Linked DNA regions of Homo sapiens: region 2 is linked to region 1. Evidence: fine-mapped expression QTL. A gene starts in region 1. The other region holds a variant in brackets. All regions are shown on one strand. Distances are from middle to middle.

Region 1 (5,372 bases):
AGACCCTGCCCGGTAGGCGAGTCCTTGTGCCCACAGCTCGGAGCCAGCAGCGGAGTGACAAAAAAGATAAAGTTGGTGAATGATAAAGACCGTATTTTCCACGCTTTGGGTGCGGGACCAGATGATCTAGAAAATGAGCTGAAATGGATTCAGCCTCCGAGCCTGTTGTGAGAGCAGCTGATTCCCCCATTTCGGGCCAGATGGCTGCTGAACACAGATTTGCATTCATTTTCGCTTAATATCGTCCAAAATAGTGGGGCAGCTGCATTTGTTGTCAAAAAGGTTTAAAACCCCTTTTCTTTCTGGGGCAGGATCGTTACCTTATGTGATGGGCTTATAGAACTTTTTTTTCCTCTTTAGTCAACAGTATCAGATTTAGAAGGATTTGTTTTTAAACCTTCTAATTTGGTAATCAGATTTAAATCGCCTTGGCGCGTGTAATCTGAATTAAAGATACTGTAAATGATTTTAAGCATGATACTTTCGTTAGCGCAAGGAAGGGGCACCTCTAGCACAGGCTGGACATTTTAGGAAGTGTGCTATAAAGGAAGCATTGTTTCCTATTTCCAACTTCATCTTTCCCGAAAAGGCACTTTGCATATTCTGACAATAACGCTTGCCTGGCCGCTTGCCCTGCGTGAGCCCCCGAAGCAGCTAAACACGCAGAGACAAAGCGTTTCTCAACCCCACCCTCCCTCGATGGCCAACTTTATTTTGCGTTGTTTCTCCACGAAGAAAGTGTTCCCTCCTACACCAGTGTCTGCCGAGAGTGGAAAGCGCTGGGCTTATTAGGAATACAGAAATTTTCTTTTAATTTATCATGAACAGTTTCCATACACTTTGATTTAAGGTTATTAACATTCTATAGACAGTGGCATCTTTAATATGTGGCTATCGCTTCTAAAGACTAATCTCATTACCCTCAAATAGTCATAAAATATGATTTTATTATACTTACGTATTTAATTAGACGGCCGGCACCGTAATGGATTTTGAGATGGGACTGGCGCAACAGCTTTGATAATTCACTTATCTTTGGCAATAGTCATTAACCCCCAACACCAGCAAAATAGATCTCTTTCCAACACATCTTTTTTCTCACTCCTTCCAAGAGGCGTGGGGGTCCCCAGACAACGTGAATCGGACTTCGACTTTCCCGATTAATTAAAATATTAACGTACACACGCTGCCAATTCACGGGAAAAGGGAGTGCTGCCCCAGACCCGGCGGGAGGAGGCTGCCCTGCAACACACTTGCGCCCTGCAATCTTTTTTTTTTTTTTCTTTTAATCAAAAGGGCCTGATTTCTCTTGGCAGGGAAGTGCCTAGGACAGTTCCTGGTCGTCCCCTGGGTCTCTGCTCCGTGTCGCGCAGACGTCCTTTGGGCGGGCCGCGCTCCTGGGCGCGGAGTCCCGGCTACAGGAGCTGGGCCGCGGGGCCCACAGTCTGCCCGCGCCCGGCTGCCCTCCCGATTCCTAGAAACCAGGTCGGGAAGCCGCGCGCCGCGCGCTCACCCGGGTCCGGCGGCTCCGAGGGCCGGGCCACAGCGCCCGCGGCGTCCGCTTGGTTTTTGGAGCAGTTGGCTCCAGGGCGGTCTGGCCACCGCGCAGGTCGCGCAGCCAGACACCCGGCTCCGGGTCGCCGGAGAGGCCGGGCGCGCTTCCCGTCGGCCCGGAGAGACCGGAGCCTTCTTTGTCACTCGCTGTGCGTAAGAACAGGCCAGGGGCCGGGGTCTGCCGCGGCCACCGGGGGAGAGGGAGCATCTGGCAGACCCTGCCTCCGACGTGATTCCCTGCCCGGCACTCGGCGGCCTCCGCCGGGGTAGGAAGCTTGGGGTACCTGGCGGGGCTCAGACCGGGACCGGCCGGCCCTGCAGCAGCCTTAGGTCTGCTTAGAAATCAGGCTGAGCTGCGCGTCCAGCCTTGGCCGGGGAGCCCTGGGCACCCCTCCTCCCAGTCCGTTGCCCGCTCCTCCCTCCGGCGCCCTCCCTGCGGTCGACCTGCCTCTTCCCACTTCTCCTTCGGGCGGCCCCAGGACAAGCTGCAGCCCCTTGCATTTATTGCATGCATCTGGGCAACTTGGGGCGCCTCAGCATTTTACAGCCCCCCGCCCCGCCCATCGTGTTCGACTGTGTGGCAGGTTTTGCAGGGAGGTATTAAGGGGCCAAACTGCAATTGTGCAGTGGCTGCGTTTGTTTCTTTTCAAGATTTATTTGGGCGAGTAGTAACTTCCTTGGCCGCGGCTGGACGCGAGGAGCCGCGGTGCGTGGCGGGGGGCGGCGGCGGCGCTCGGTGGCGCTCGGCGGCGGCGGGGCTCGCGGGGCTCGCGGGGCTCGGGCCGGCTCGCGGCGCCGTCAGGCAGTCAGTCGGCGAGCGCGGCGGCGGCGGCGGCGAGGGGCGCGGCGAGGGGCGGCCGCTCCCATATATGGCGCAGGCACCGCCCCCCGACGTCACCCTCTGACAGCGCCGCTCCCGGGGGCTTCGAGTTTTGGCTCCCGGGAAAGGGTCCATTCCTCGGGGAGAGAGGGCTGAGTTTTGTGCGCCTCCGTCCGCTGCGCGCGCCGCTCCAGGCCCCGCCGCGCCCCGCCTGCGCCCGGGACTGCGCCGCAGCACTCACTGCCCCGTTTATTTGTCTTTGGAGCAGGCGGGCCGCGCCAGAAGCGGGCGATCCCGCAGTGTCCTGCAGCCGCGGACGCCGCCTGGCTAGGATGACACCACGTTGAGCGCGCCTGCAAACAACAACAACAACAAGCGCCGCCGCGGCCACCGCGTCCTGCTCCTTCGAAGCGCCGCCGCCGCCGGTGGAGCCGCCTCCGCGCCCCTGGCCGTCCGGAGCGCCCGGCCGCTGGTGTATGTCGCGCCTGCCCGGGACGGGCTGAAGCCGGCGGCGGGGCCGGACCGCAGGCGCCGAGCAGGGCGAGGGCGGCCAGGGCAGCCGCCTGCCGCCAAGCCCCGAGCGCCGCTGCTCGAGGAAACGCTTTCGGCCGGGAGCTGCGGCCGCCGCCAGCAGTTTTCATGTTTGGGATTCAGGAGAATATTCCGCGCGGGGGGACGACCATGAAGGAGGAGCCGCTGGGCAGCGGCATGAACCCGGTGCGCTCGTGGATGCACACGGCGGGCGTGGTGGACGCCAACACGGCCGCCCAGAGGTACGTACCGGCCGCCCCCGCGCGCCCTGGCCCCGGCCCCGGCCCGGCCCGGCCCCCTCCGCCGGCCGGCGCCGCGCTCCTCACCGGGCCGCTGTCTCTTTCCTCCCGCAGCGGCGTGGGGCTGGCGCGGGCGCACTTCGAGAAGCAGCCGCCTTCCAACCTCCGGAAATCCAATTTCTTCCACTTCGTGCTGGCGCTCTACGATAGGCAGGGGCAGCCGGTGGAGATTGAAAGGACCGCTTTTGTGGACTTTGTGGAGAAAGAGAAAGTAAGTGCAAACACACGATCACACCCTCTCTCTTTCTAGAAGCGGGAGGCAGGCGGTGCCGGTGCGCGGGGGTTCGAGTGCCCCCCTAGGCGGCGGGCTCGGCTCCGCCAGGCCACCCCGCCGCCGCCACGTGCGGCCGCCCGGGACCGCCGAGGGCTGGGCAACTTCTCTGCGCCCTCGGACTTACTCGGGGCGAGGAGAACGCTGGGCTTCCAGCAGGAAAGTGACATCACCGCGCTGCTTCGAGCTAGGAATCCTGCCATGTGTGAGGCCGAGAGCCTCGGTCGCGGAGGGGGACCGAGCGTGGTGGCCGCGCCTGACACCGATCGCACTAAATGCAATTATTTATCGTTACTTTCAGGAGCCAAACAACGAGAAAACCAACAACGGCATCCACTATAAACTCCAGTTATTGTACAGCAACGGTAAGTGCCTGCTGCGTGCTCGCCGCCCCTGCAGCGGCTGGCTCTCCTTTTCTGCGCTGGTGAAAGGACATAAAGATTTGAGATTAAAATGACATGGATGTAAACACGAAATCTTCTCATGGCATAGAAGGAAAACAAAACATAAACGATCAATAAGTCGATGGCACTTCACATGATTAACCGGTGGGGCTTGAAGTAGAAAGTAAGAAAAAGATCGATACGGGCTCCAGCAGAACATCACTTTTAAGTGACTTTTTTCAATTTTGCAAATTAATGTTAATTATTAGGATGGGGGTAACTCCATAAACGGAGCATAACTTACTTCCTGTGAACGAGTTTTTTTTTTTTAAATCCTCGAGAGACATTAGAAAGAGTTCAGCCTCTCACTCAGTTTCCATTTGGTGCTTTTTCTTTTCTAAAAATAAACGACCACATGGGCCCACCGCACACAGCTACCAGGCCTGCTCTCCACCAGGCAAGTTCCTTGCACCTTGAAATGCAAGCCCTAAGAGCCTTAAGGTTCTTAGTTAAGAAAAGAAAAAAAAAATTAAGCGAGAAGTGGTGGGGTTCTCTTTCTCCCTTTCAAAGGGATTGCCTAAGTTCTGCTGCATCACCGTGGCAGCAGTCCTGAGTTACAGACTTCCTGTGCTCCGTGTGCCCTCCCCGAGGTGCAGCACTCAAATCCTGATGAGAATTTGTCTCTGTTTTTTTGCAGGAGTCAGAACAGAGCAAGATCTGTATGTTCGCCTCATAGATTCAATGACCAAACAGGTGAGAAAGTTTATGCCTCTGCACGAGTTTTCACTGCTGGGCCTGGGTTGTCCTGGGCTTCAGAGGCAAGGGCACTGACAAATGGATCTCGTGTATTTGTTTTCCATTGAGTTTCCTTGACATGCTAATGAGAATTCCATATTTATTGGAATGAATGAAGCGATTGGTAAAATAGTTTATGTTGTCATTAGAACAGGACATATATGCTTTATTAAATGTCTTGTGATTGGAATCATATTCTGTCTTAATTAATTATGGTAATTAATATTTGACAAAAATTTCAAGATGTCCCCCCTCTTGTTTATTTTTAAATGCTTCTCTCTCTGCTAGGAATCAGTTCATTTGGATTTTTTTTCCTATAACAAAGGCAGCTAACTCCTAAGCCCATCGAGTTGGACTTGATTAGTTCATTTTTTTTCTCCTTTCCAGTGTGATGGTCTAGTAACACGAGACGTTTATTTGGATTTAAAAGTTAAATGTGTTGGGGTGAAAAGTCACCTTGTTCTCCTCTAGTCCATCTTCACCTCGCAGCCCCCCAGCTCCATAATTCAAACTCCAAGCTCCAGGGGTCACTCCAACCCGTCCACTGCTCTGCCCCCTCTCCCACCCTCTGTCATACCTTGTAAATAACATAATTACAAGCAGTTCCTTATTAAATTATTTAACCTGTCTTGGTCAACTTTTCCGATGATAACTATTGGCTATCAGTAATGTGATTAAGTGGAGAAAAGTGCGTCACTGCTTTTTGACATTGTGCAGTC
Region 2 (5,372 bases), 170 kb after region 1:
CAGGAGCACCACTGCAGAAGCTCGGTTAACCCAGGGGGCTCATCTTCCTCCAAAGGCCACCCTGGGGTCTCTTTCTGCCTCCATGGAGCTAGAAACCCAGGAAACAGCAGCTCTCTGAGGACTCAAGGCCAGCACTAGAGAAGAGGGTCTGTCTTTCAAACATCCGCTGCAAACAAGACAGCCCAAATAGTGCACTTAGGAGCTGCAGGCTTTGGGGTAGGGAGGCAGAGACGCGGCTGGGCAGTAGGAAGCCAGCAGGGACGGTGGGCCAGGTCTCCTTGCTTCTGCAGTCACCCAGGGAAGATCCTTGTGCTCAGGGGGGATTTGGCTTTGGTGCCCAGGAAAGGACTGGAGCCTCATCCCCTCACACACTGACTCCCTCCCCTGGTCTGCACCATCTCCCACAACAGGATGGGAGGTTGCATGGAGCATAATGTCAGCACTGGCCCCTCTGCCCGGGGTCCCTCACGTGCTCATTCTGGCTCCAAATGGAGGCTGTGTGCGAGTTACGGAACTCACGCAGCCTCTGCTCGCAATTTCCACCAGGAAGAGCTGCTCCTTTTTCACTTTTAAACCCCAAGTAGGGCTAAAGAGCTCTCAGCCGCTCCCTTCTAGAGGGCCCGGGAATGGCCAGCCAGGAACGCGGCTCTCCCGCGGCCACGGGAATGCCTGCTCTCTAGTGTCCCGACGAGCCCACAGGCAGGCCCCAGGAACAAAGAATGAAATGGCCCCAAAGAGCAAGAGTTACATTTCATGCTTAAAATCAAGGCCATCCCATGAGGAGCCAACCACGGAGACTCTTGATTGATGGCGGAGAATAATTATTCTCAGTGTTGCTGCGAGCTTGCCTTCGTAGAAAGCCAGAGATGAATAAAATATATGAGAGCATATCAAAATATAGTGCAAGGACAACATATACAAACAGTACGTTAAGCATTATGGAAGACAATAAACGGAGCTGGAAAACACATCCGAGTTAGCGCTGGGCCCGGAATCCGTGTGCATCTGCGCGAATGGGAAGCAGCGCCGCAGACGTCTCTGTGTGGCCCCTTCGGTCCTGGGAATACTTCATTAGTTGGAAAATCTGAGCAGATTAATTTCTACCGCCGCCTCCTTCCTGAAGGACAGGTTCCTGGGTGCACAGCGCGGCTGCGGCTGCTCCTCTGCCGCCAGGCCCCGGGCTTCCCTCCACACGCAGAGTGCAGTGTCAACAGAAATGCTACAGTGACATTTCTCTCTCTCTCAATTACTTGTAGGCTTTTCACTGCCTGTATAAAATACATATTGTGCTCCAGCGAGATCCATTGTACCGAGGTCAGCGGGAACTCATTGTCCTTTTTAGCTTCAGAACAAGACAATACTGACATCTGTAAGATTTGCTGTAAATAATCCAAGTGGTATAGGTACCGGGTCAGGGGCAGGAGAGGGTAAAAAAGAAAGGAGGAGGGAAGGAAAAGAGGAAGGAAGAGGGAGGGGGTGAGGTGGGGTGAGGTGGGGAGAAGGGGAGAGGGGAGAGGGAAGAGGGAGGCAGAAAGGTGTTGTGAAATTTACTGAATGCTAAATCATTCCGCATCCTGAATTGGTCATGGGAAGGCTTCACCAAATCGTTTGCATCATTTCAGGGAAAAATAAATATTTGGCAAATACCTACAGGACAGCATCGGCTTGCATGCCTACTGCAGATGGCCTTTGCTCCCAGGGCAGGATTTATCCTGCAAACCATCGCACCAGAGAGCCCTAGGTGCAGGGGCTGTGCCCAGCCCTCCAGCAGAGCCACACATGTGGAGCTCCGGTGCATGGCCTCGAATTCTAATTGGGATGGCAGAAGTCTATGATTCTGATTAAGTGCAACGGAGTCATTTACTTGACAGTTCAAATCAATAAGTTAAAATGGGGTGGGGGTGGGGGAACAACCTGCACAGTCAAAGATTCGAGAAGCAGAAAGGCCTACTGGGTGCCGGCTTTGCCCTGAACCGCCTGCCTTTTAAGTCGGTGTGTGAGAAAATCAAAAGCGTATTTGACAACCAGTCAGGGAGAAGCTCTTCTCCGAAGGAGAGATTTTTCATGGAAAAGAAAATTTGGCGACAGGCAGGGGACTGTGCCCGGGATGATAAATGAGGGAGAGAAATACTAATGGAGACTCCGTGCAGGCAGAAGTGAGACTCCTGGAAGCCCACTTGTCTTTTTCTTCTCTACCTGTGTAAGAGGCAGAGACCGTGCATGCATGTGCGAGTGTGCACGTGTAGGAGGGAGAGATGGAGCGTGTGTGCGTGAATGTGTAACAGGCTGAGACCAAGTGTGTGTGCATGTGTGTATGAGGCAGAGACCAAGTGTGTGTGTGTGAATGTGCATGCGTTGTGTTGGTGGGACACACAGTGTGTGCACATGTGTGCATGTGTGTGCCTGTCCCAACACACTTCTCCAGTCCCTGGTTTGAGACCCTGTCCGGGGGTGGATAGAGAGAGAGCTGCTGATGAACTTGGCTTCCAGTACAAATGCGGCTGCTTCTCTGGGTGGGAGGCGATCGCCACACTTCCTCAGTCATGGACAGTGCTGATTTTGAGGCTGGCCCAGCAATAAATTCATTTCCACTCGGGACTTTTACCCTTAAAGACAAAATCTCTTCAGCCTGTACCTTTTCCCTTCGGTCATATCCAGAAAAGTGAGCATGTGATTTCAATTTGAAATTAAAAGTCATGTCTGAATAACAGAACTGCATTCTCATTTCCTAATACCCTGGTTTTTACTACTTTGCATTCAACTGTGAAAAGTCTTTTAAAACTCGGAACAGCAGTAAAACTTGAATGAATTTTTGACCCATTATTGCATAGCGGGTGCGCCTTCCAAGTTGGAGAGACTGCCAAGTTCTCACCACCTAATATTTCCACTTTAATTGTGCCACTTGAGAAATTTACGTGCCTCAAAATATGGCATGAATCTTACGCTTATTGCAGTATCATTAGCAGCAACATTTAAGCAACATCTGTGTGCCATAGAACTAATTGAAGTAGCAGAAGTGGCAGCTGTAAATCCACAGGAAGATGGCAGTTTGTACCCAGCACTGCTGAGCTAGCTCCTAACTGTCAGCCTGTTCCTGCAATCTGCTCTCGAGTGCGGCAGTACAGGCACACAATGTCCAAAAAAATACAGCGAGTAGGCTAATGATCCTATTAACCACTTTGCTGCACCAATTTGGCTGTTTTTCCAGTTTCCTTGTTGAATTTCATTATAAGTTTTGCCATTCCTGTAAAAAGTCCAGTATGAGACATGTCTGACTTTAAACTACTT[A/T]CCTGAGCCGAGAAACACTCGTCTGGCCAGGCCAAACTGAGGATTGATTTTTTTTTTATTATTTAATAATTCTTCCCACCACACCCCGGCTCCTTTCAATTGCTTAAAATTTTTTCACACACACATTTCTGTAAAACAAAAGAAAACAAAGCATTTAAATCTCTTGTAATGTTGATATTTAAAGAAATGGCATTTTCTTCCCATGGACATAACATTTTCAGTAATCAATACAAGATGGCAGCCCTAATTTATTATTGGTGGGGAGTGGAGGAAGAGGGCAGAGATGGTGAGGATCTCCCAGAGTCTGCTGAGGTATAGATGCGGTCAGCTTATCTGAGAGCCTGTGTCATCCCTCCACTACACAGTGGTTTGGACCCAAAATGCATTGACTGTTTTTCTTCAATGTGAAGAAAAATGAGGCTGATTCTCCCGCACAGAGTGCAAGCTAAGTTGGGAGCAAGGAAAGACCCTGGTGCCTCTTGTTGCAGAGAAACGAGGACTTAGGAGCCCCTGCTTTCCTTCCGAATATCCCCCCATTAAGCACAACTGGAAAAAACATTTCCAACACCTCCAAGAAAACCCAGCCCCATTTTGGTTTTAACTCTGCTTTTGCTTGTGTTTGTCTTGGCAGGGGACGGATGTTTCTCCCTTGGTGCCTGGCCCTCAGACAATGATGTAACTGGTATCTTTCGAAGCACTCAAGAGTGCTGGAAATACACAAAAGAAGACCTCCTTCAATATATGATGACTGGTGTGTTTGCCAACAACCCAACTTCATTAGAAAATTGGCACGTCCACCCAGCTGCCATGTGACACGCCGTTAACTCCGGACATTTGTTGTCTTAATGCTCAAGTACTCAGGGACTCAACTGATAAGGGAGAAACTGTTTGGAATCCACTGAACCCCACGCCTAGGGTGGCCGCCACCTCATGGTATTGAAAATCAATAGCCACATGACTGCTGAAAGGTTGGAGGCCTCCAGAATTAACTTCCTAGTACTAAATTACCATCCCTTCTTTCTTGGTTTATTTTCTAACAATAATACATTTTAAGGGCGCCTGGTTAAAAACCACTTACGAAACACACAACGAAGAAAACTGAATCACTGGCGAACAGCTGCCAGTTCCTCCCCCCAGCCCAGCGAACATGAGGATGAACGATGCTGACAGCTCCCTCGGCCTGCAGCCTGGGTTTGTTTCTTCAAAAAAATCTCGTTCTTTTTTGGTGGTGGTGTTTTAATCTTTATGGAAAAGGGTAAGCTTGTTTAGAAGCGATCCATCTCTGACTTACCAAATAATGCAGCTTAGTAATAAGTTGGGCACCACCACTGCCCTGGGATGCTGTCTCAAATGCCACATCACAGAAGGGAGACTCGGGAGAAGGGGAGGCTTGTGGCATTTCACTGTAGTTGAGAAATAAGCTCCCGTGGCTAACGATGTGGCATCATTTATTTAAGTTTTGAATTTCAATAGCTTTTGGGGTACAAGTGGTTTTTGGTTTCATGGATGAATTACAGAGCGGTGAATTCTGAGATTTTATTGCACCCATCACCCGAGTGGTGTCCGTTGTACCTAATGTGTAGTTTTTTCTTTTTTTTTTTTTCATCCCTAGCCTGCTTCCCACCCTCCCGCTTCTGAGTCTCTAAAGTCCGTATCACTCTGTATGCCTTTGTGGATTCATAGCTTAGCTCCCACTTATAAGCGAGAATGTATGGTTTTTAGTTTTCACTCCTGGGTTACTTCACTTAGAATAATGGCTTCCAGCTCCACCCAAGTTGCTGCAAAATACATTATTTCATTCCTTTTAACGGCTCAGTAGTATTCCATGGTGTATAGACACCACATTTTCCTTATCCACTTATTGGTTGATGGGCACTTAGGTTGGTTCCACATCTTTGCAATTGTGAATTGCACTGCTATAAACATATGTGTGCAAGTGTCTTTTTCATATAATGACTTCTTTTCCTTTGGGTTGATACCCAGGAGTGGGATTGCTGGATCGAATGGTAGATCTGCTTTTAGTTCTGTAGGGAATCTCCATACTGTTTTCCATAGTGGTTGTACTAATTGACCTTCCCACCAGC

Alleles and levels. Alleles are on the strand shown, and positions count from the first base shown. SD is a standard deviation of normalised expression in the study named.
In carriers of allele T in region 2, the expression in spleen of the gene that starts at base 2,508 in region 1 tends to be lower than with A alone (large effect, 0.80 SD a copy in GTEx).

The links. PIP is the estimated chance that this variant, and not a neighbour inherited with it, causes the effect.
Region 2: its variant is fine-mapped to the expression of EBF3 in spleen (GTEx, PIP above 0.99). The same link has a PIP of 0.9 or more in cerebellar hemisphere, liver, ovary and testis.

What each region holds. Positions count from the first base shown.
Region 1 is chr10:129,961,410-129,966,781 of GRCh38, reverse strand. It overlaps EBF3 (EBF transcription factor 3), which reads left to right and starts at 2,508. Exons shown (of 17, transcript NM_001375380.1): 1 at 2,508-3,147; 2 at 3,259-3,415; 3 at 3,777-3,840; 4 at 4,556-4,611. The coding sequence starts at 3,014. RefSeq lists enhancers at 1-374, 1,410-2,381.
Region 2 is chr10:129,789,953-129,795,324 of GRCh38, reverse strand. It overlaps LOC107984281 (a long non-coding RNA gene), which reads right to left. Exons shown (of 11, transcript NR_186705.1): 3 at 3,291-3,416. Among named protein-coding and RNA genes, the nearest start is that of MIR4297, 51 kb to the left of the region's middle. The variant A/T (reference allele first, on the strand shown) is at 3,289.